Regions from separate parts of the Homo sapiens genome. Here region 1 is linked to region 2. Evidence: fine-mapped expression QTL. Tissue or cell type: fibroblasts. Region 2 holds a variant in brackets; the other region holds the start of a gene. All regions are shown on one strand. Distances are from middle to middle. Region 1 holds the start of TSHZ2 (teashirt zinc finger homeobox 2). Region 2 overlaps TSHZ2 (teashirt zinc finger homeobox 2).

What was found.
Region 1: TSHZ2 starts here. The variant in region 2 is fine-mapped to the expression of TSHZ2 in fibroblasts (GTEx, PIP 0.93).

The regions. Positions count from the first base shown.
Region 1 is chr20:52,964,784-52,977,575 of GRCh38, forward strand. It overlaps TSHZ2 (teashirt zinc finger homeobox 2), which reads left to right and starts at 7,575. Exons shown (of 3, transcript NM_173485.6): 1 at 7,575-8,550. The coding sequence starts at 8,511.
Region 2 is chr20:53,074,796-53,087,587 of GRCh38, forward strand. The region is part of intron 1 of TSHZ2 (teashirt zinc finger homeobox 2); the gene reads left to right. Among named protein-coding and RNA genes, the nearest start is that of TSHZ2, 110 kb to the left of the region's middle. The variant G/A (reference allele first, on the strand shown) is at 5,699.

The DNA.
Region 1 (12,792 bases), 110 kb before region 2:
AAGAGGAAAGGGGAAAAGGGAGGGAAGTTGGTGAGGGGAAGACAGCATCAATTGAGAATGAGACACATAAGCTAAAATGTTATCTCCATATCTAATGAAAACCCTATTGGAGCAGTGACTCATACAGTAATCCCAGCACCTTGGGAAGCTGAGGCGGGAGGATTGCTTGAGCCAAGGAGTTTGAGACTAGCCTGGGTAACACAGAGAGACCCTGTCTGCAAAAATAAAATTAATAGAGTGTGGTGGCTCGAACCTGATATCCATGCTACTTGGGATGCTGAGGAGGGAGGATTGATTGAGCCCAGAAGCTTGAGGCTGCAGTGAGCTATGATCGAGTCACGGCACTCCAGCCTGGGAGCAAACAAGATCTTGTCTCTAAACACAAAAGAAAAGAAAAGAAAACCCTATTGCGCCAAAGGTATTTTTAAAAGACCTTCCTTGCATGTATCCTCAGCTTCATGTTCAATCCTTCCACAGATTTTTAATAAGCACCAATACGGTGCTCAACCTGAGGATATAAATGTGAATTTGGGAAGACAGACAGGAAAAACACAAAAATACATGAAGAAAATACAGAGAAAGAGTGGGACAGATAGGGTAGGCAACAAAGGTACATTTGAGTTTAGAGTGAAGAGGAAAGATAGATCTGGAGGAGGAACTTTGTAGAAGGAAAGAATAAGAGTAAAGGTCCTGAAACCTATACAGGAGGCACTATGGTGACTGAGACATTCTCTCTGTGCTCAGGTATCACAAGGCTACCCCAAAGCCCAGTAATTAGAGCACTGCCCTGCACAAGGTAGGTGCTTGGCAAATATTTGTTTAATTGCATCAGTGGTAAAACAGGTGAACTAACAACAAATTCGATATGTTGTGTGCTTTGAGGGGGAGGATTGATAGGCTTCTACAGTGTGATTAGAAGACTTGAGTGAATCCAAGAACAAATGCCTTTTCTGTTCCTTGCATGCAAGAAACTCTGCAAACTCTATTCACTTGTTATAAAATTCAACTTTTGTACAGAAAAGTTTCCTATGCCTAGTGCCTTACCAGAATCACCTGGGACCTTTAAGATTTTGAGATTTTTCTGACACCACCCTGGAATCTAATTTAGTAAGTCTAGGATGTGGCCTGGGGTTCTTTATCTTGAAAAACAAAAAATCCCCAGGTGATTCTGATGTTCAGCCAGCATGTGAACAACTGTTCTGGAAGGTAGGGTTGAGTCATTCCAATCAGTTCATGCCCTTACACATCCCAAAGTTCGAGTGCTGGATCCTAGGAAGCGAAGTTCCCTGGAGACTTAAACATAGCCTCATCCCAAGACACCAGCTCTTATAAGAAGTTTCCCCAAGTGCCAGAGTCTATGGTTTAGCACAGTATTTTCCAATTCTAGCAATGCCCACACCATCTCTTTCACATTTTGCCATTTCCACATCCCACCTGAATCACTTTTTACTCTCTATTGTTCCTTTAATATACTTATTTTTAAAATTCCACTTAATGGGTTTAAATATTAGATTGCTCTTACGCAAGGAGAGCAGGATCTTTAAAAACAGAAGGTAACTCTAAATCGAAAGCATTAAAAACAAAACATTTTTTTAATTCTTTTTTTTCTTTTACTTTAAGTTCCGGGATACATGTGCAGAATGTGCAGGTTTGTTACAAAGGTATACACGTACCATGGTGGTTTGCTGCACCTATCAACCCGTCATCTAGGTTTTTAAGCCCCTCATGCATTAGGTATTGGTCCTAATGCTCTCCCTCCCCTTGCTCCCCACCCCAACAGGCCATGGTGTGTGTTGTTCCTCTCCTTGTGTCCATGTGTTCACATTGTTCAGTTCCCACTTATGAGTCTTATGAGTGAGAACACATAGTGTTTGGTTTTCTGTTCCTGTGTTAGTTTGCTGAGAATTATGGCTCCCAGCTTAATCCATGTCCTGGAAAAGGACATGATCTCATTCTTTTTTATGGCTGCATAGTATTCCATGGTGTATATGTGCCACATTTTCTTTATCCAGTCTATCATTGATGGGCATTTGGGTTAATTCCAAGTCTTTGCTATTGTAAATATTGCTGCAATAAACCTACATGTGCATGTGTCTTTATTTTAGAATGATTTATAATCCTTTGGGAATATACCCAGTAATGGGATTGCTGGGTCAAATGGTATTTCTGATTCTAGATCCTTCAGGAACCACCACACTATCTTCCACAATGGTTGAACTAATTTACACTCCCACCAACAGTGTAAAAGCTTTCTTATTTCTTCACAGCCTTGCCAGCATCTATTGTTTCTTGACTTTTTAATAATCACCATTCTGGCATGTGATGTTATCTCATTGTGGTTTTGATTTGCATTTCTCTAATGATCAGTGATGATGAGGCTTTTTTCATATGCTTGAAAACAAAACATTTTTAAAAGTCTAGCTAGATACTCTTGTCCCTCCCAAGCTTCTGAGCCTAAGATCCGTGGTATCTTTGTTGAAAAATAGAAGTTAGCAAGCATTAGGTATAAAAGAGACACGAGCACAAAATGGTTATTTTATCAGATTGAAAGAGAATTGAAAGGGAATAACTTTCTTACTATGTGATTCAATATTATTTAACATCTTGTCTACAGCACTGGGTACATAGTGTTATACATCCCGCTGGTGTAAGCCAAAACCATTTTCGTGGATAACTAAGCTAACTATTAGTAACGGTATGAAAAAATACAAATTAATAAAAGAACATTTCAGAAATGTAGATCCAACAATGTGTTAATAGCCAGCCAGAAAGTAGGTACTGCAGAATTGTTACAAGTCCCCCACATTATATAACCAGCTATTGAGAACAAGGAGAGAGCGGATGTAAAATTCTGAGAAGGATATTGGATAGAACCTCAGGGAAATTCTGTCATCCAAAGTCATCTTCTCCTGCCCATTTCCTTCCTGATTGTCTCCAAGGCTGGACCCAGCTTCCAAATTCCCTCTTTTTTAGTTCCCAGTCTTTGGGATGTTATTATAACATCCAAAAGCTTTTTGAAGGTGATGATCCTACCTTATGCATTCCAAAATCTGCTGTGCTTGGGGCAAGGCCTGGTAGACCTAACAGGCGCAGTAGATGTCTGTGAAATAACTGGCTGAATGTAACACAAACACCACACCAGCAGGCATGGGGCTTGCACAGAGCATGGCGGCTTCATGGTGAGGTTGCTGCAGCTTCACTCCTCTTCTGTTCAGGCCTCCTGATCCTATAAACAAGTATCCCCTAATCCCACAACGGTGGTTCCTTGGCTGCAAGGCTGTGAGGTTTTATTCAATAGGCTATGGTCCCTTGCACAGTGCTCTGTAAAAATGTATTGGGTAATTAGAATTAATACCTTTTTTGTTGACATTGCCAACTATGAAATCGGGCTTTTTCTGCCTCAGTTGCCTAAGGACTAGGCTGGGACTGGGTGGAGTTGGTCATGGGTGGAGGCTTCTCGGGTGATTTAGGGCAAGTGAGTTAACAACTTGTACCACACATGTGAGATGGAGAAGTGCGTGAGGATGTTAAAAATGATTAAACAGCACTTTGCAAACAATCACAACAACACTTTGTGGCTGACAAGTAGGATAGGGAAAGTTGAGTGTCATACAGCCCAAAGAACTGTTAAGAAAAATATTCATGGAACTAGTCAGAACTGGTAGTTCCCCATAAGCAGGTGGGTGGGTTGTAGTGGGAAGTGTCCCAGATCAGACTGGGCAGGCCTTGCTGGGGTGGTGGGGTGGGGGTGATCATGGTGGGAGGAGGAGTATTGAGGAGTGGGCACAGGTGAAACCCCATCGCGACGGCCACCATTACAACATCACCCCTTGAACCCTTAAGTTACATTAATATCTAAGCCTGACTTGGCTTTATAGTTAACAACATTGAGTATGTCTGATTACAAAAGAACAAACAATTTGGGGGCAGATGTTCTCTAACTGGTGTGAGCAGAAGTTTCACTTGTAGGGATGGATGGGTTACATGTTCAAAATACAGATCTCTAAGCCTTCATCCGGAATTTTCTGATTCAGAAGATCTAGGGTAGTGATGCTAAGCCAAGGACGATTTTGCCTACCAGGGGACATTGGGCAGTATCTGGAGACAGTTTGCATTGTCACAACGGAAGCCTGGGATGTTCCTAAACATCCTACATTGAACAGGACAGCCCCTCCTAACAAAGAATTATCAGACCTTCAATGTCAATAGGGCCTGGGTTAGAAAATCTTGCTCTAGGGCAAGGACCAGGTACGTGCATCTTAACAAGGGCCTCAGGAGATTTTAATGCGGAAGCAGAAGCCTTACACGGTGTCTTTTTGATACAAGGGCTTCAGTATCAGAGTTCCCTTTTTGCCTACCCGTTTGTTATATGTAAGACTCAGCTTTGACTTACCTCTTCCCTTGAAGCCCCGCCTGGTAACCATCCTTCCTTTCGCCAAGTTCAGGGTAATCACTCCTCCTAAGAACACCTTCACCACATACTTATAACCAACTGATCTTTGGCAAAGCATATAAAAACATAAGTTGGGAAAAGGTCTATTCCAGTGTTCTCCAGCCTTTTTTTCACCAGGGACTGGTTTCATGGAAGACAATTTTTCCATGGACCAGGGCAGGGTGGATGGTTTTGGGATAAAACTGTTTGACCTCAGATCATTAGGCATTAGATTCTCATAAGGAGTGTGCAACCTAGATCCCTTGCATTCACAGTTTACAATAGAGTTAGAGCTCCCATGAGAGTCTAATGCCCCTGCTGAAGTGACAGAGCTCAAATGGTAATGCTTGCTTACCCCTACCTGCTCACCTCCTTCTGTGCCACCTAGTTCCTTACAGGCCATGGACAGGTGCTAGTCCATGGTTCAGGGGTTCGGGACCCCTGCCCTATTCAATAAATGGTGCTGGGAAAATTGGATAGCCACATGTAGAAGAATGAAACTATCCCTGTCTCTGACCATATATAAAAATTAACTCAAGATGGATTAAAGACTTTAAACATAAGACCTGACACCATAAATATTCTAGAAGAAAACCTAAGAAAAACTCTTCTGGACATTGGCTTAGGCAAAGAATTTCTGACTAAGCCCTCAAAAGCAAATGCAACAAAAATAAATAAATAAATGGAGCCTAATTAAACTAAAAAAATTCTACCCAGTAAAAGAAACAATCATCAGAGCAAACAGACAACCTACAGAATGGGTGAAAATATTTGCAAACTATGCATCTGACAAAGGACTAATATCCAGAATCTACAAGGAACTCAAACAAATCAGCAAGAAAAAAAAAAAAATAATCTCATTAAAAAGTGGACAAATGACGTGAATAGACATTTCTCAAAAGGAGACAGACAAATGGCCAACAAACATAATGAAAAAATGCTGAACATCAATAATCACAGGGTAAATGCAAATTAAAACTGCAGTGAGATAGCACCTTACCCTAGCCAGAATGGCCATTATTAAAAAGTCAAAAAACAACAGATATTGGTGTGGATGTGGGGAAAAGGGAACTTTTATACCCACTGCTGGTGTGAATGTAAATTAGTACAATCTCTATGGAGAACAGTATGGAGATTTCTCAAGGAATTAAAAGTAGATCTACCATTTGATCCAGCAACCCCACTACTGGGTATCTACCCAAAGGAAAAAAAGTCATTATGTCAAAAAGACACCTGCAGGCGTATATTCATTGCAGCACAATTGCAAAGATATGAAATCAACATAAGTGCCCATCAACTGATTATTGTATAAAGAAAATGTGGTATATATATCTATATATGTGTATTTGTGTATATATATGTGTGTTTGTGTGTATATACACACATATATATACACCGTGGAATACTACTCAGCCATAGTAAAGAACAAAATAATGTCTTTCACAGCAACTTGGATAGAGCTGGAGGCCGTTATTCTAGGTGAAGTAACTCAGGATCAAAAACCAAATACCACACGTTCTTGGTTATAAGTGGGAGCTAATGCATGGGTATGCAAAGGCATATGGAAAGATATCATGGACATTGGCAACTCAGAAGCGAGGAGTATGGGAAGGGGGTGAGGACTGAAAAACTACCTATTGGGTACGATGTACACTACTCGGGTGACGGGTGCACTGAAATCCCAGACTTCACCACTATGCAATTCATCCATGTAACCGAAAACCACTTTTACCCCTAAAGCTATTGAAATAAAAAAAATAATAAAGCAAAAAAAAACACCTCTAGTCCCAGCCTGCATCAAATGCCCTCAGTTGCTTTGCCCTCTCACTGGAAGGAGCACTCCTTGAGGGCATGGTCTAGGTTCACCTTGTTCACAGACTTGCCCCCAACACCTCAAAAGGTGCCTGGCCGATAGCAGAACTCAATAATCACATGTTTGTTTCAATCTCTCTGTGCTCAAATGCCATATCCTACATTGAATCTAGAGCCACCCACCCCCTTTTAGACACTATTACAGCACTCAGCTTAACGTCTTCATGGAGCGAATCACTCAAAGTATCCTGTTTATTTGCTTGCTTACTTTTCATTCATTCAACAAATATTTTACTGGGCACTTATTATATGTCTTGTGCTTTGCCAGCACTTGGGGATATAAGAGAACAAAGAGGCAAAAATCCTTCCTTCCATTGGAGCTTACATTCAAGAGGGGAACTTGTACAATCAACAGAATAGAAAACTGTCTATAACCTGTGTGACACTCACTGATCAGCTCACTGGGGAATAACAAAATGGAGAAATGGGGCAGGGAGTGTGTGTGTGTGTGTGTGTGTGTATTTTAGGTGAGGTAGACCTTTGGGAAAAGGGGACATTTAAGCAAAGATTGGATAGCTGGGGGGCACTTGTCTGCACTCCCCCATTAGAATATAAATACCAACATGGCCACCACCTTCCCTTTCTCTGTGGCCTCTGTGTCTCCAGAATAGGCACATAGTAGATGCTCAATAAACATTCTTCAAAGGAAACAAAAAGAGGAGTATATGATTAGACCTTAAAGTAGACAGAAGGGAGATTTTTGTTTTTGTGACCACCCATTGATTAGCGAGAAAGTGGGAGGGACAGGGGCACTAAATTGAAGGGGTCGTGGGGAGCACATTTTGGTGGGGGCAGGTTAAGACTTACAGGATGGAGATCCTCACTGGATAAGGTCCCCTCCCCCTTCCCAGCCCCGAGCAAACCTAAGTTCTCCCTCTCCTAAGATTGTGCATGGTCCCTGCTGGTCAGCCAACCTGGCCCCCCTGAATCTCCCTCCACAGCCTCCCAGCTTCAGAGTTCAGCCATCATCACACTGCCTCCTTTTCTCCCGCACCCCTTCCCTCCTCACCTCCTTTCCTCCCGCCCCCGCCCCTTCCGCCTCCCGGAGGGGTGTCCCCGCGCCCGGTGGGCACGCCCTCGCCCCGGCGGAGAGGGCGCACAGAGGGGCCTGGGCCGGCGCGCCGGGGCCCCCGCCCCCAGCCCCTCTCCCCTGCGGGACGCTGTCCCTTTAATAGGCTCCCGCTGCCTGGCGCTCTGCGGCTGGGGAGTAAATTTCTCCCTGTCATCAGGTCGCGGGGAGAGGAGGAGGAGGAGGAGTTTGTTAATGTTCAGTTTGTTCAGCGGGATCGATGTTTGCTGGCATCGCCTCGCCCTGTCTTGTGTGTGTGTGCGAGGGTGTGTGTGTGTGTTTGTGTGTGTGTGCATATGTGGGGGGTGTGAGTGTGTGTGTGCGAGGAAGCGGGGGTGCGTGCGCGTGTGAGTGCGTGTGTGAGTGTCTGTGTGTGTGTCTGTGTGTGTGTGTGAGTGAGTGAATTCCAGATTTTCTGTCTTTCCAAAACCCGCTCCTGTCCTCTCGCATATCACTCACAGACGGGGATCTGACAGCAGCCACAAACCTACAGTGAGTGATCGCTCTCCCCCCGGCACGAATCCGCCATAGAGATCGGCGAGGAGGAGGAGGAGGAGGAGGAAGAAAAGAAGGAGGAGGTGGAGGAGGAGGTGGAGGAGGAGGAGGAGGAGGGAAAGAGGAGAAGGAAGAAGAAGAAAAAGAAGAAACCCACTACCTTCCCAGGATTGCCTTTTTTTTTTCCTTATCTTTACGCGCGAGTGTGCCTGTGGCGCGTGTGCGCCCCTCGTCCCTTCCATCCGAACCCGGGCTTGGATGTTTAATAAAGAAATCAAGTGTCTCAACAGTCACCAAAAAAAAAAAAAACCGCAAAAACAAAACCAAAAAAATTCCAAAAGCAAAAACAAAAAAGAGAGAGGAAAAAAAATTCAAAATAAACAAACAAACAAACAAGGCAGAACCAACCTCTACTTCAAAGCAGCCGGCACAAGCCACCCGTGTCTGCCACCCAGAGAGGGGGGTCTCTGGCCCGTGGTGGAGGAGTTGCAGGGGGGATCGTCAGGGGGACAGAGGCCGAGTGACGTCCTAGGAGCCACCGGGCAAGAGGCGGAGGAGACCCAGAGAGGCCAGAGAGACAGCGGGCCCCAGCGCGCGGCTCGGGGCTGGGGCGCCAGAAGTGGGACTGGAGCGAAGTAGAGGATGCCGAGGAGAAAACAGCAGGCACCCAAGCGGGCGGCAGGTAAGAGAAACGGCTCCGCTTCGGGGCTGCCCTGTGCGCCGAGCTCCTCGCCCGCCCTCCTTGCCCCTGGGTGCCCGGGGGCACCACCCACTTAAGCTTTCGGGGGAGTTTGCGCCGGGTGCCCTTCTAATAACCCCGTCCTCTCTCGCCTTCTCTGGTCTCCCAAATCCTCCCCTTCCAAGCTCCGGTTGGGTTGGGGTGAGCTATCCCACCAAGCCTTTCCTCCTTAAACTTTCTTTCCTCCACCCTCTACCCCACCCCTAACTTTCTTCCAGTCTGTTTCTTGCCTCTCGGGCCAAAGTCGGATTGAGGATTTGGGGTGCGGAGTAGGGAGACAGCCCCTCCACCCCTGCATCCCTCTGCGTGGTCAGTGCCAGTGGCTTTTGGCCTCCAGGGATAGCGTCTCCTCTCACTGGGGCTTGGGGCGCTGAAGTGTGAGGCATACCTAACACTCGGGCTGCAGGCAGGCTTTGGGGCCAGCAATAGGAGTTTAGCGTTGATCACCAAGGTGGACAAAATGCCCCCAGGAAATGGATGACTCTTTGCATATATTTTCTAAAAGGATCCATATTTGGAAATGTAATTAACAATTTCCCTATTCTTTAAAAAAACCAAAAAGGGTTGTAGGGGGGAAATTCCCCATAGAAATTTAAACAGCTCTGGATTTTCTTTGCCTAGAGAGTTGCAAACTTTGTGAAATGATTCGTACTGTAAAAACTATCCCATCTGAATCCTTACTGCCCCCTAAAAAAGATAAGAACAGGTTAATGGATCAGTACAATAGACCTTCTAAAGTTTTTTTTTCTTTTGGGTTGCTTAATTGCTTTTTTAATAGTATGCTGGGGTTTTGTTTCTCGGAAATGTAATATGAAAGTTCATTTTTCTTCTGCCAGACCCACCCACTGAAAAATCAGCTTTCCACTTGATTGCTAGTTTTGATTTGACATTTGATTGATCACCTGTCATCTCGCTGCCTTTGATCTATTCATTCTTGATATATATCAATAAATCACTCACCATGGTAACTCAGAGTGCCAGTGACGCAAACCTTGCCCTCTATATTCAGAGCCAGACATGCACAATTATTATCTTGTTTGGCTTTTAATGTGGGCGTTTTTATTTCTTTGTGTCCTTTAGTTGAATCAGGGCTTTCGCAAAAAGCTTAAGTTTAGTTGTTTTTTCCTCTCTCTCTGTCTTTACCCTCTTGATTTAGGCAACATTAGGTAAGACTGGTCTTCTGCAGACCCACCTCCACATTTCATTCTGTTCCAACTCTAGCAAAACATAGGGAGAAGTTTGGTGGAACACTTTCATAAACTTTGCAAAGTCACCCTTAGAACAAATCCAAAGTTAGTTAGGAATCTGAGGAGAGTGGGCATCCCTTGTCTGAATGTGTTGAACCACCAAGCTCATCCTCCTTCCTCGCCTGAGTGTTTCAAAATATCCACAATTATCATTCCTTCTGAGCACAGAATTGCTTCCCTATTTGTAAGTTGGTTCAAGTGGCATGCAGAAATATTGATAAAGCGTGGATTCATATATTTTCTGATCGTTTCCCTAAAAGCAAAATAATTAAAATATTTTTAGTGAGGTACGTATTTGGAACTTGCCTCATCAGTGAGGTTTTCTTTTTTCAACTCTAGTTACTTCTTTGGAAAACAATGTCTCTTTCCTACCGTTGTCTCTTTCTGCATTTAACTCACTGATTTCCTAAAACTTAGGCTGCTTTGCAATCTGACAGCGTGTGGATGTGTTCAATGGCCTTTGAGACCCAGGAACAGTGAGCCTGCTGCATCTAGTTCTGGCAACATAAGTTTAAGTGTAGCTACATTATTAGAGATAACGTCCTTATTGTTGTCCCGAAAGAGAACCCTGGGCTACGGTCCAGCAAGAAGTGATACTGCCCTGAAAATTACTCTTTTTTTTTTTCTGGTTGTTCCGGTAAAGACTATCAACAACTAGGCAGTAATTTAAATTACCAGAATGACTGGACATGTCTCCTTTAGTAAGCTCATTACAAAAAGTGCATTGCTCAGAATTGCTCGACTTTGATTATAATTATCCTACGATCGATAAGGATCCAGGTGTACGTAACATAACACTGTATCACATTATTTAAATCAGGTCCTTTTCATTAAGCTGTGTCTGTTGGTGCTGGCTAGTTTATTGGTGTGTGTGGGTGTGTGGGGGTGTGTGTGTGTGTGTGTTAGAAACTTGTAACTATAGTTTCAGTTTTCTGGCCTATTATATTCCTACTGTCTTTGTATGTTTGTTTTGTATGATTCTTATTATTTTCACCAGAAGCGGAAACCCTTTTTAAGCTGAAAAAGGATGATTCATTTCGTACACAGTGAGGGCCCTCTTACCTTATTTATTTGCTCACATATTAATAGAGGAGACAGTTTTTCATGCAGTGTTTCTTCTGTTCATCTAAGGTCATCAATGCCCTACTCTATTTCAGCTGAAGTGGTTATTCACAAGTAAAGTTAGCCACTTTGGGGTTCTGTAGTCAGTTAACATCCAGGGAAGGGGAGAAGGTGGGTTCTAAGATTATGGCCATACTAACTTTTATCACTGCTTAAAATTAAACACAATGCACAACTGTAAGTAATTACACCCAAGGACTGATGTTGAAAGCTTGATTTCTAGCTTGATTAATGAATAATGGGAGATAGAAAAAGCCTGTGAGTGGATCCGAGCTGAGGCTCTCCCGGAGCGCTCTTTTTCCCAAGAACTGTTCCAGGCAATTTGATTCCTTTGTATTATTAGTTATAAGTTCCATGTTTCAAGGAATCAATTACAGAACTTTCTACTAAAGCAGGTATCTAAACAGAATAAACAAGATGATATTGTAAGTGATGAGGAATTTTAGTCTTTATTTGTTATGTTCCTCCCCCTTCAGGGGGAAGGGATGTGAGGGGACAATTCTCTTTAAGGAAACAGCTAAATCAGAGTATTTCCCTCTGAAATGTCATTCTTCCTGGCTTTCTTAAGCTATGCTATTCCACCATACTATTACTTAGGGCAAGAAAAAAAAAGTTGAGAAAGCAGCCTACAGTACCCCAGGGGTTTGTGTTGTGTGTGCATGCTTGCTTCCTTGGATGTATATTTCACTCACCATTAAAATACATCCACTATTACCTGAAAATATTGCAGGATTCAGTACCAGCATTTTCCCCTTCTATGCATTTCAAGGGAGATAGAGAAAATGGCAGGAAAGTAAAACAGAACGGTGTTTTGATTTGTTTGCATTTTGCAGGATGCAGAGTGGTTAAAAATTTAAAATTGTAGACTTAGAATCTAACTCTTGATTTTCTACAGCCTATCTCAGCCTCTGTGCGCGCACATAAATAATACGTATTTTATTTCACCATACTGAACTGCTTTTATATTAATGACAGCCAATTGCAATAGAACACACAATCTTTTGTGAGCACATCTTGTGAATATATCTTTTATATATGTAAGTTATAGGATTCTGCCCCTGCCCACCCAAAGCAATTAGATGTTTCCCTCTTGCTGACTCTTAAAGGCTTTCTGATCACCCAGATCTGAAGAGTCTTGCAAGAAAGAACAGCTCCCTCAATTTATTTTGTTTATTTAATATGGAGATGAATAATGCAGATTTTGTTTTCATGAATGTCCTTGTGTGGCAGTAAACATTAGACTATTAGCAATCATTACTTAAAAGTTGCAATTTGCACCTTAATAACACAGGTTATTTACATGGGAAACATAGTCAACAGGGACAACTCTGAACACTGCAACAGAGCAGAAATGACCTCAGAGATCTCTTTTCCACCTCTTGATAGTGATGACTCTGAATTAACCGGTGAGGTCCCAGAAATCTCAACCAACAGGATGGAGGGAGGGGGCAGGCAGCTCAGGGCGAAGTTTACCTTTAATTTACTGTCAAGTGGGACAGCTTTCAAGAGACTAGGAATCGGGTAGATTTGGGACCCTTCCTCCCTCACTTTGTTTAAACATCCTTCAGAAAGACAAGTTCACATCTTGAATATTTAAATATCTCACGCGATGGATTCCTTCACTTGCCCAAAAGTATGTTTTTAACAAATGAATGGAAAAATACACACACACACACACACACACACACACACACACACACACACACACACGCATGGACACAATAAAGTCCAAAGGGTCTTAGCAGCACAAACTCTTTTGGCCATTCTTGTTACTTAAGGCAGATATCTGAAAAAGGAAGGATAGATTCCTTGAAAT
Region 2 (12,792 bases):
TTTCAACAGAGATATGTATTGTTAGTCCCATTTAACAGATGAAGCAATTGAGGCTTAGAGAAGCAAATGACTTACTTGAAGTCATCCAGCTCATCAGAAAGAACCCCAACCCTCCCAAGGTATTTGACCTTGCAGGTCAGTGTTTTTCCCACTCAACCACAGATGTTTTATGTCCTCTTTTGTCGCTGACGTTTCCTCCATGTGGAAAGCTTTGAAAGTGCTCCAGTCACATTTTGAAATTTCATGACAAAAAATTGAATGTCATCCAAAGCATAGTTGAGGATTTAAACATCCCTGTCAATCCTGGCTGTCATCACCAAAAGATTTCTATCCCAACGATAGATCATTGTGACGTGCTTGGCCTAAAGGGCCCTGGGCTGTTATAATGAGTAAGATTGGAATCTACTGAGTAATGCAAATAAATAAAAAAGAGACAGGTAGTCTCAGACTTTTTCATTATTGCCTTCTTTGCTGTGAAGCTCATGGACTGCTCTGTGCAAAGGATCTTTCTTTTTACCATTTTAATAGCCTGTGCAATGGGATTAAGAAAGATCTTGGGTTTTTCATTCAACAGATATTTTCATCATTAAAATGCTTACTGTTTTTGAGCACATAAGTGACTCTACTGGAATGGTAGTAGGAAAATAGGGACACGAAGGGGATTTGAAGTCAGATTATGAAAGCACTGCATGCCAAGCTATAAAAGGAGCGACAAATCAGGGAGGTTAGTTTCTGATACTAACCTTGGCAAACACAGAGAGGGGAGAAGCAAGTGCAAAAGCCCTAGATGAAAATGAGTTTGGATAGTATGTTCTAGAAACAGAAGGCAGCAGGACAGGTGAGAACTAAACAAGGCAGAGCGTGATAAGATATGAGAATGAAGGTGGAGGAAGGAGTAGGGTGATCACCAGCCCAGGCTGCTAGGAGACTGAGGGAGTTCTTGGGGTGATGGATTTTCAGTTTTTAAACTGGGAGAGTCCACGGCACACTGGGACAAGTCAGCCACCATCGGTGGGAGCCAGGTTCTGCTGGGACTGGGGACCATGGGAAGGAGTTTGGGCTGTACTTTACATGCAATGGGAGAGACTGAATGTGTTTTAAGTGGCACATTCTCAACTGCATTCAGTCTGGAGACTGAAACACTGATTCCTTGTTCTTTGGCAAGTCACCCAACCCCTCTTGACCTCGCTTTCCTCACTTCTAGCGAGAGGTGGTTACACCAGATGATCTTCAAGGTTCCTTTCGACTCTGAGACCCTAGGACACTTTTCACTTTGTTCTGTAGACAGAAAAGAGTGGTCAAGGATTACTGAGCAAAGGAATAACACAAAGAATTTTTTGAAGGATTAATCTGGCAGTAGTTTACAAAACTAATCACAGCAAAGAGAGATCTGAAGAAAACAGTTGAGCTCTTACAGTGATCCAAGCAAGAGATGATGAGAGCCTGGACTGGATGACAGCAGAAAGGATGATGGAGACAGGAAGGAAGGGTGGAGTGATATTAACCAGAAAAATTGCTGAATTTGCTGGCAAACTGCACATGGCTGATAATGGAGTCACCAAAGTGTGATTTAATTCATTCATTCATTTGTTCAACTTACTGAGGCCCTATTGTGTGCCAGGCACTGGATGAAAGTAGATGAGCAAGTCCTTGCCTTCACAGAGCTCACAATCTAGTGGGGAAACCAGTATCAGACTGCACGTTTCAGTTGTGCTTAATACTATGAAAGGACTGGGCCAGATTCCATACAAGCGATGCGGAGGTCCTGACCCAGTCTGAAGATCACTGAGGGCTTACTGAGATGAGTGATGTCAAAGCTCACAGCTAAAAAAGAAAAAAACAGCACTAAATTAGGTTGATGGTGGGAGGTGAGGGTGGAGCAGGCCATGGAGTGGAGAACATTTTAGGCACAGGTACCTTATTTGCTGACAACATGAGGCAGGAAGATGTTGCACATTCAATGAACTTAGGAAAACACAACCTGATGAAGGACTAGATGGAGGATCCTGGAAGGCTGGAAAGAGTTAAATTATAAAAGGGACTTGCAGATGCATAATTCATTTTGGACGCAATTCAGAGAGTGATGGGAAGTCATTAAAGAAAGAGTTATAAACAAGACCCTGATGTGCAGTTTCAGAGTTTTGCATTTTTGTATCCGGAAGAATCATGGTATTCCTAAGAGAACTCGGGCTTAGAGAGAGTGGAGAGGTAAATTCTGATGGAAAAGCAAAAGAGGGGAAAGGAAAAGTGTGACCAAGTGGAAGTAGTCTCTCAGGTGCTGAAGACACAAGTCTATGAGCTTAGCAGAGATGAGAGGTAAAGATAATGCTCTGGAGGCCAGGCACGATGGCCCATGCCTGTAATCCCAGCACTTTGGGAGGCTAAGGCGGGTGGGTCACTTGAGGTCAGGAGTTCGATACCAGCCTGGGCAACATGGTGAAACCCTGTATCTACTAAAATACAAAAAAAAAATAGCATGGTGGCGTGTGCGTGTAATCCCAGCTACTTGGGAGGCTGAGGCAGGAGAACCATTTGAACCCTGGAGGCAAAGGTTGCAGTGAGCCAAGATTGTGCCACTGCACTGCAGCCAGGATGACAGAGTAAGACTCTACCTCAAAAAAAAAAAAAAAAAGATAATACTCTGGGGATCATCTGTACAGTTGGAGCTGTGAGAGTGAATTAGTTTTGTTTGAGAAGGGAGAGTTAGCAAGGGGAGAAAAGATTGACAAGACCAGAGTCTTGGGACCTGTCCACATATTAGGAGCAATTCTGGATGATCCAGAGATAGAAAGGCAAACAGAAGGGAGGACGACCCAGGAGGTTTAGGCACATCATACACAGCAGCCAAGCCTGAGTCACACAGACAGGGTAGTGGAGGTATCAAATACTGCACAAAGGTCAAAGAAAAACAAAGCCTGACAAAAGGCCAGTCAGTGTGGCAATTAATAGATCATTCGTTATCGCTGAAAAGGAGGTTGGTGACTAATGTTTGGATTACATCACCTTGGACAAAATTAATAACAAATTTCCTGATAGTCACTTGCAAAGATGCAATGGAAATTGGCTGCTCACTCTCCCTGTCTGTTCTGAAATTTCTTAACTTTGTGAACACTCTAATCTCCTCTGAGTACTGCAGCAGAAAATTGAAATGTGCCCTGTGTACAATGTGGGTGAGTTTCTGTTACCCAAATCCTTACCTTTTAGATGTTTAGAATGTCAACTTCTCCAATTTACTGAATGCGTAGGCAGAGTTTGCATGACTGTTTCTGAGAGTGAATCTATCGGAAAGGAGGGAGAATGACATGCGAAGAGCTTCTATCAATCACGAATCCAGCTTTAGACTGCAAAATCTGTGTGTTCACGCTAAGAAAGGGAGATTTCCTGAAGTCAAAGATCTAAACCCAAAATCTAAAAACATATGAGTAAAGAGTTTTGCACTTAGGGGGATTACTCAGAATAGAGAAAATAATGTGGGTTTAACCATTTCATGACAGCTTTTTTTCTATTCCTTTGAATGAACACCTAGACATTTTTTAAATTAAAATTTTGAGTAATACTTGTTCATTGTAGAAGATTTGCCAAGTCCAAGAACTACAGTATGCCTGACACCTAATAAATACTCGTTAAATATTTCTTGAAAAAAGACATGAAATGGTACAAGATAAAACTGGATTAGAGGGACTCTGGCATATTTGGGATCATGTTAACACTTTTCGATGTGGTCTTTGAGCATGGAGGAATTATTATAGGTTTTTAGTCACAGGATTACATCATAAATTATCTTTGAAAAATACCCTGGCTGCATTTTGCTGGATGTATTGGAGTAGAATGAGGATGGATTCAAGGACAGCAGTGAGGTAGTTACTGTGATAATCAGGTGACAAAAAGATGGTGGCTTAGACTAGGCTGGCAGCAATAGAGATGTAGAGAAGTGGGTGGATTGAGATAGATTTGGTGGTAAAAATCAATAGAGCTTGGCTATATGGTAAATTTAGAGGTACGCTGGGAATAATGGAGTGGGGGAAAATTTTGGTAAAGGTAAAAATCGTAATTCCATTTGGGAACTGTTAAGTTTGATGTTCAAGAGTTAGGGAGAAGACCATTGGGTACTTATCTGGATTTCAACATAATACCCAATTACATCAATGTCAAAGTCCTAGCAAATAGAACATAATGAACCCCTGGCAGTGGACGAGCATGTTTAGGGTGAGATTATTGAGGAAGAAAGACTAAGCCCTGAGAAAGGCCAATATCCAACATTGAAAAGGAAAAAAGTCTGCAAAACATGAGCTTTTGGAGAGCGTGGAAGACTATCAACATAGGGTGATTGTCAAAATAGGAAGTAATAGAGAAGAGAGTGTCTCAAGAGGGAAAAAGTGGTTAGCTCTACTAACTACTTTTAGTAGAAGTCAGTAAGGTGCAAGTTGAAAAAATGCACACTGGACTTAACTTGGCTGAGCTCCTGGGTGAACTTAGTAAAAGCATTCACAGTAGACCAATGGGAGGAGAAGCCAGACTGGGTGGGTTGAAAAATAAATGAGAGATGAGAAATAGAGACAACAGTGTGCATATCTCATGCGGGTTGCCAGACAGTGGTTAACGTAGACAGTGACATGTTCACACTGGAAGAGGTTAATCTGCAGAGCAAGTGCAAAACCCTCTCAAATCGCTGCTATGTTTAAGGCATCTTAGCGCTACAGAGACAGAATAATCCTGTGTATTGGGAATACAGAAAGGAAAAAATCAGGAATGCAGAGACTTCAAGTCTTTAGAGGCCAAATTCCAAGGCTTTGGTCTGAGCCAGGCACTATTTCAAACAGCTGGATTATGTGCCAATATGCCTAACGAAGTGAATATCAGCTGGCCCCACACTGGTAATAAAACGATAATAACTCTATAAATAAATGTATTGAGTGCTGACTGTGCCCTCTATCACACTAGCCACTCTATACCCTTTATCTCATTTAATTTTCACAAAAGCACCAGCAGATAGCTACTATAGCTACTAGTAACCTTTTTCTTTTTCTGTTTTTTTTTTCTTTTTTTTTGCAGAAGAGATCCTGAGGTCCACAAAAGTTGAATTATATGTCCTAATACACATAGCTTATGAGTGAAGCCGTGATTCTGATTGGTCTGACTCCAAAGTTCAACTTAGGTTATTCAGTCTCTTCAAGTTGTTGTTGCCCAATGAAAACTTGTTGCCTAGCTAACTGGAAATCTGACTGAATTTCCAGACTAGCTCAGCTTACCTAATTTAATAAAAAACATCAAGACCCGAAAAGCAATTATGTAGAATGATTCGAATCTTAAACGAGTTAATATATCCAGAGCTCTTATGGTACCAGACGCATAGAGAGCCTTATGTATGTGTTTCCCATTAATTCTTACTAAAAGGCTCTAGAGAGAAATTGGTCTGCCCTTCCCTGGTGCTAATCAAACATTGTGAATAGTAACACCATTTTTTCCTCCCAAGGGCCACTAAATTTCTGCTTCTTACAGAGTAGTTTTCAACTTGGTCTTAAGGAAGAGGATGGTATTTCCTGGCTTTGTGCTTAATCTCTTTACAGGAAATGATATTGTTGTAGGCAAGGACAAAGGTACAAGTGTACACATTTAACAAATGCATTGAATCCTCTATTAACATTGCAAGTCAGTTCTTTAGAGCAACAGTCCCCAACCTTTTTGGCACCAGGGATCA[G/A]CTTCATGGAAGACAATTTTCCACGGACAAAGGTAGGGGAGATGGATGGTTTCAGGATGAAAGTCTTTCACCTCGGATGATCAGGCATTAGTTAGAGTCTCCTAAGGAATGTGCAACCTAGATCCCTCGCATACACAGTTCACAACAGGGTTCGTACTCCTATGAAAATCGAATGCCCCTGCTGACAGAAGGCAGAGTTTAGGTGGTAATGTTCGCTCGCCCACCGCTCACCTCCTGCTATTCAGCCTGGTTCCTAACAGGCCACGGACCTGTACCGGCCCGCGGCCCAGGGGCTGGGGACACCTGCTTTAGAGTCGTATCATTTTTGTTGATCCAGAATAACAAAGAGATGAACAGCCTAAGTCCACCAGCTATGAGTTTGGGATTGAATTTGACACCAGTTTAATTGAGGCAGCCACGGAGATCAAGGCAAAAATAACACTTCTTAAGGTCCCACTGTGTAGTGACAAACATTAGCTTCTTTAATCTTCATAATGCTGTCGGTTCTGCTATAATACTGCTTTTAAAACATGTTTTTTAGAGACAGGATCTTTCTCTGTCACCCAAGTTAGAGTGCAGTGGCATGATCATAGCTCACTGTAGCCTCAAACTGCTGGGCTCAAGCAGTCCTCCTGCCTCAGCCTCCCAAGTATCTGGGACTACAGGCATGTGCCACCACACCCACCTGTTTTTTTTATTATCTTATTATTTTTTATTTTGTAAAGATGAGGTCTCGCTATGTTACCCAGGCTGGTCTTAAACTCCTGGCATCAAGTGATCCTGCCTCAAACTCCCAAAGTCCTGAAATTACAAGCCTGAACCACTGTGCCCAGCCAATGCTTCCTTAAAACATAATTTTGCTCCAAAATGGTGGATACACTTTCAGCTTGACACTGAGTTTGCATTTGTGTACGTGTGACTTCGTCCTTGAGAAACACTGAACACAGAAAACTGCACCCAGCTGAACCAGGCCATGTAGAAATACACAAAAGCAAACACACACATACCTCAAACATCTACTCACTTCCTTCAGCTGGTGTGCCACAAGCCCCACCCACCCATGCACAATTGCTGTTACAACGCTGTAGGATTCCAGGTAACACTCCTCCCACCACTTCCAACACCCACTTCCACGGCTCTTTATTAAGGTAAAATACTTATTTATCACGGTGTTTATAAATTTTTTCACCATTTAACCTGCATAAAACGGTGCTACTGTTTGTATTAGGTTCCTGCTTTTTTATTATATGTTACTGACAGGAGCTTTGTTCTCCCAAACCCATTTTCCCCGTAAGCTCTGTGGGTTTTATTGTGAAATTTAGAAGACTGTGGTCCTTTTTAGAAACACACAAACACCTTATATTAGACTGACTGTACGTAAGTATGAAACAAATATGTTTATTCTTTTTTTTTTTTTTCTGAGACAGAGTCTTACTCTGTCGCCCAGGCTGGAGTGCAGTCAGATATTTTTGTTCTTATTCCCATTCCACAAATATGAAAATAGCCCAGAGGAGATGAATAACTTACCCAAGGTCACCCGTCACTGACTTTGTATTTGTGTAATTTCGTCACTCCCTTCTCTTAACAGACACTTCTAAATAGCTTCAAAGCACATTGAACTGGACAGTTGTTGCAAACCAGCTTCAACATTACAAAAATAAACATTTTCCAGAAAGGCCTTCACTCAAGATGACCCACACAACTCTTTGAATGGTCTATGTATTTTTAAATCATGTGGTAATCCCCTTTGTACATACTAAATAAGTCCCATTCTGCTCACATGTTAATAAATTTTTCTCATTTGTGAGAGTTGCTGAATAGAGCAAGCGAATTGTTTTACTCAGTAGGTGGTCGAGCCATAATAAAGAAGCCTCGTGATTAAGTAGAGTTGGAGCCTCTTATCTTTCTCACTGAGTGGGAGGCACCATTAGTAGTAAAAGTAATTACCTGTGTAGAACACGCTGATTGCATCAAGTACCTACTACACGCTACTAAGATAGTCATCTCCATTTTAGAGCTTCTTAAGAGATCTTCATTTGATGTTAATTTTACATTTTAAGCCAAAGTACATTATTTTTGGAAAACATTGTCTTAGCTGGATGAACTCATTTTTAAAGCCTTTCAAAGGACTTCTGTGCCCTGGTGATTCCCTCACCGATGCCCTTTCTCCAAAATGGCAGCTGCAAAGCTGTCTAAACAAAGTTGGAAATGATAAGCCACCTAAATGTGAAAGAATCTATCTGGCAAGAGTTGGTTTTATGTGGGGGTGAAAAACCTGTGCTTTCATCTATGAAATCACAAAGTCCGTTATGGGAAGGTGTTGGCTATTTAAAGCAGTAATTCCTGAGAAACTGTCCATGCCAAATCTTGTTAAATGTTGTACTGGATAGTTTCAGCAAATTTCAAATTCTTCTCTGATGGGAATATTAGAAACAGGGTGCTCCTGGTTAGATGGAGGCAAGGCCAGAGCCTTGACACTTAGTGGTGGTAACTCAGAAAGAGTCCTCAGCAGAGGGGTTTTGGAGGCCAGAGGACTCCCCCAGCTCTGTCTTTGGCTGACAAAATGACCACTACTTGCAACCTAACCTTCTGTGTATAAAATGAACAGATTGAATAGGTGTCCCATCTAAGTCCAAATTTTGATGTAGGTATACAGCTAATCATTTATTAGATTTATTAGAATTCTTTATGTGTGTGCATTTACAGTTAGGCATCTGTGCAATCGTCCAACCAATGAATCACACCATGCCTTTGAGTTTTCCAATTCTCCCTTAAATGTAGCTATCAATGTTATTTTTACTTATAGGACCCCAAAATGTGACCTTCCTTAGGGAGGTAAATAAGACATTGCTTGTAGGCCTGACTTGAGGCTTGTAAATAGCTTTCCAAATTAATAGGTCTGCAAAAATATATTCTGAAGCCTCACATTTCTATCGGTTTTAACCGTATAGCCAGGGTCGGTGATCCTTTTTTCGCCATATCTACTTCTTTCATATTGCTGATCACATCGGAAAGCCAAAAAAGGACTATCAGATATGATCAGGTTACCTGATAAAAAGAACAAACAGTTTTCGAAGTCAGACAGACTGGTTCAAATCCTGTTTCTGTTTATTCAGGCTCAAACCTTAGTCTGTCATTGTTACCAGCTGTGAGACATTCTGCAAATTATTTAACTAATTGAAGTATCAGTTTCCTCATCTATAAATTGGGCATGACAGTAATATTTGCTTCACCGTTATAAAGACTAAAAGCAAATGAGATAGTATGGAATTCTGTTTCTGTTTTTACTGGAAGGAATTATAAAAATTTCCAGTTTGCATTGATAACTTGAAGAGGGAATGTCTATTTTTTTTATAAGTTTTCTTCCCTTTCTATGTGAATTTTTTTAACTGTAAGCATTTATTGCATTTTTTTTACTTCTGTCTTTTAACATCATTTGATTTATCTTGGGTAAAATCATAAGCCTTCTTTATTATTGTTTAAGTTTCTCTGATTTAAAAAAACTAAAATATTATTAAAAATTAAATAAGATAACATAGCTAAGGTATTTTTCATAATGTTTGCCACAGAATAGCCACTAATCAAATTTGTCATAAGTAATAAGATCACTTCCATAACTACAAAAATTTTATAACCCAGGAAAAGTAAAGAACGACAAAATACACAGCAATTACTCAAAAGATTTTTCATTCCACTTATTCTGGTTAATTTCAGGTCCTGGAATCAAGAACAAGTGTTTATATATCGGTTAAATTGTTTTATAATGAATTTTGAAGAACCCTTGGAATTATTTTTGTGTTGGAATTATATTGTATTAAAGAGTGTTTGAAGCAATTTGGATATTCAAGTGGACTTAGTTTTGTCGGGGTTTTTTCCACTAAGATTTTTCACTGTTTGGGCATTATTTAAGATTCAGCCCAACAATATGTCACTAGCTAAAACTGAATGATGCTGTAATCCATACAGAGGACAAATGACAAATTTGTTGACTAAACTTCTATCAGTTTGGTTAGTGAGGAGCATTCTGATTATAGGTGGGAATTTTTGAGCAAGATTGACTCTTAATTTCATGTTCAATTTTTAAAAATTTATTCATCCTTTCCTCTGTTTTTCTTCCTTTCCAACCAAACTTCCTCCCTCCCTCCCTCCCTCTCTCCCTCTCTCCTTCTCTCCTTCTCTCCCTCCCTCCCTCCCTCCCTCTCTCCCTCTCTCCCTCTCTCCTTCCCTCCCTCCCTTCCTTCCTTCCTTCTTTGGTTAAGCACCTATTCTGTATTTTAAAACCAGTAGTCAAGCTCAGTTCATACTTTTTTATGCAAGTGCCTTTCACCAAGACAAAAACCAAGGCTTGAACTAACATTTAGCTTTTCTGAAAGCAATTTACTGAGAAAGTAAGATGCTTGGGTTTTTTCTGTGTAGACATTAATAATCATTTATTAGATTGTTAGGCCTATTTCAAGCCATGTAACCTCACTGGGTCTCAGTTTGCTTTCCTCCAAAATGGGATAATAATACCTGCTTTATCATATACATGAAGAATTTAGTCCTGTGCTAGCTCATGGTGCATTTGTTAAATAAGAAAAATAGATGCTGGGTGTGGTGGCTCACGACTGTAATCCCAATACTTTGGGAGGCTGAGATGGGTGGATCACCTGAAGTCTCCTGACTTCGAGACCAGCCAGGCGAATATGGTGAAACCTCATCTCTACTAAAAATACAAAAAAATCAGCCGGGCGTGGTGGCGGGCACCTATAATCCCAGCTACTCGGGAGGCTGAGGCTGGAGAATCGCTTGAATCCAGGGGGCGGAGGTCGCAGTGAGCCAAGATCGCGCCACTGAACTCCAGCCTGGGCAACACAATGAAACTCCATCTCAAAAAGAAAGAGAGAGAGAGAGAGAGAAAGAAAGAAAGACCGATATTTCACTTTAGGTAGAACTTTTGCATGTCTTGGAGAATCTGAAATATGACCAGGCTGTCAGTGGGGAAACACACCGAGGAGAAACTGCATAGTGGTAGTGGCTTGGTTCCTAAAGTAAGACAAACTCAGGTGTTCAATGCTGTTATTTATTGAACACTTATTTACATGCCAGGCCCCTTGTCAATTACTTTGTATGCATTGTACACTAGGTGTTATTTTATTATTCCCATTTTACACATAAGGAAATGAAGGCCCCTGAAAGAGGGCAAGGACTTTCCCCAGGATAAATTACAAAGTTCAGATTTAAACCCAGGTGGTCTAGACCTCATGATCTTAAACACTATGCCCCCAGGATTCAGGGCCAGAAAGGTGCCTAGCTGCAAAGTCATGCCCATTACTGAGTTCAACTTCCTCAAATTCCCCCTGAAGTAATCCCACGCAGGGCTCAGTGGTGGCGTTCAGGCGTAAGCATTAAACCACAAGCCAGGCAGACCTTCATGAGGGCTTCTCAAAGTTCTCCTCTCCAGCTGCGCTCAACCTCACCTGTGCCTCTCAAGGCCTAGGGTTATTGTGCATGTGGCATGGTCTCCAGCTGTTCCTCATCCTGACTTCTCCATCTGCACCAATCTCTTTGCATGGAGGCCGTGTCTTCTGGTCTCTTGGTAGCTCAGTAGTGGTGGGGTGGGTGCCAGCTGCCCACTGTGCATCTCAATCAAGGTTTCTTTAGTTGTAAGGAAGAATAACTCTCTTCAAAGGAAACTAAGCAATAACAACTAAACAGTAACAACAAAAATGTCTAAGGAGGGCGCTGGCATAGACCAGGGAATTGATGCAAAGGTGGGGTTGAGTGGGATGTCGGAGAGGGTAGAGCCAGGTATCTTTATGAACCAAAAGGTATATGTGTTTTGCACCTTCCTTCAGACTTTCCTTCTCTCAAGATCGCCATATCTCCATTCAGATTTTTGGGCTAATCTCTACCAAAAGCTTGGCTCTCTGTGGGTAGCCTACTTTCAGTCCATTTGTCTCTGATTGAGGTGGAGTCTGTTAGGGCTTGAGGAGCAAGTAGTTCTTGTGGAAGGGAAGGTATGGCTTGAATAGATCATCCCCAAGTGTGTCTACCACATTGGTTCTTTGGAAGGTGATTGTTGGAGAAACCTCCTGTCAGGAATGATGTATATAGGGCAAATAACAACCTCTCCCTGGTGGCCTTAACCATAAAATAGAAGTATGGACAGCTCTGTTCATCCTAACAATTATTTATAGGCCACCTCAATTTGCCTCTGTTAACTGGAACTCGTGTCCTGAAACCGTGTCTTCCCTTTGCACAGTTCTGTGGTTGCTGAGATGGCATGCACCATAAGGAGTGTCTGCATTTAAGACTTATCTTTTAATGCCAGTTCTCCTTCCAGGAGCTGGGGATATAGCAATGAACCAATCAAATGTTCTTGCCTAAGAATTCAGGTAAGGGAGAAGGAAAATAAAAAATGAATATATTAGCTAGCTGGCATGTTAGACGTGAAATGCTAAGGAGAAAACAAAGCCAAGAAGATGGTAGAGGAAGAGTCAGGGGATGGGGTGGAGGGTTTCATGCTAGATAGGATGGCCAAGCATGGCTCTGCGGAGAAAGGAACCTATGAGTAGACTCATAGGAAGTGAGAAAACAAGCCATGTGATGATCTGAAGGAGGAGAATTCATAATACCAGATTCTCACATGGCTAGACCTTTTGCCCTTTCTTGAGCAACAGCCTGTCATGAATGGAGAGAAGAATTGAGGTCAACCAAAAAAGGGAAATTTTTTTGCCCAGGATCAGATGCTTTTCCAAGTAAACAAGTAGTTACTCCAAGGGATATTTCCAGGAGATTCTTCAACTCCAAAGGCCAAATCTTCACGTTTCCGTTACTGTAGAGCTTTCTAAACACAGATAATTGTTTGCACAGTTGGTCAGCTCACACAAATCCCTTGGCAGTTTCTACAGACATTTATGCATTACACATTTTCGATCCTTGGCCCAAAGTTCTGATGTTTTAGCTCTGACAGTCGGCTCATGAGAACTCAGACTTCTTGATGCAAGCCCCCAGTCTTCACTTTTGAAAGACCATGGACCAAAGTTTTAATTGCCTCGTGGGTGTCTCTTCCTCTTCACTGGGTGCACAGCGTTACTCATAATCATGCTTCT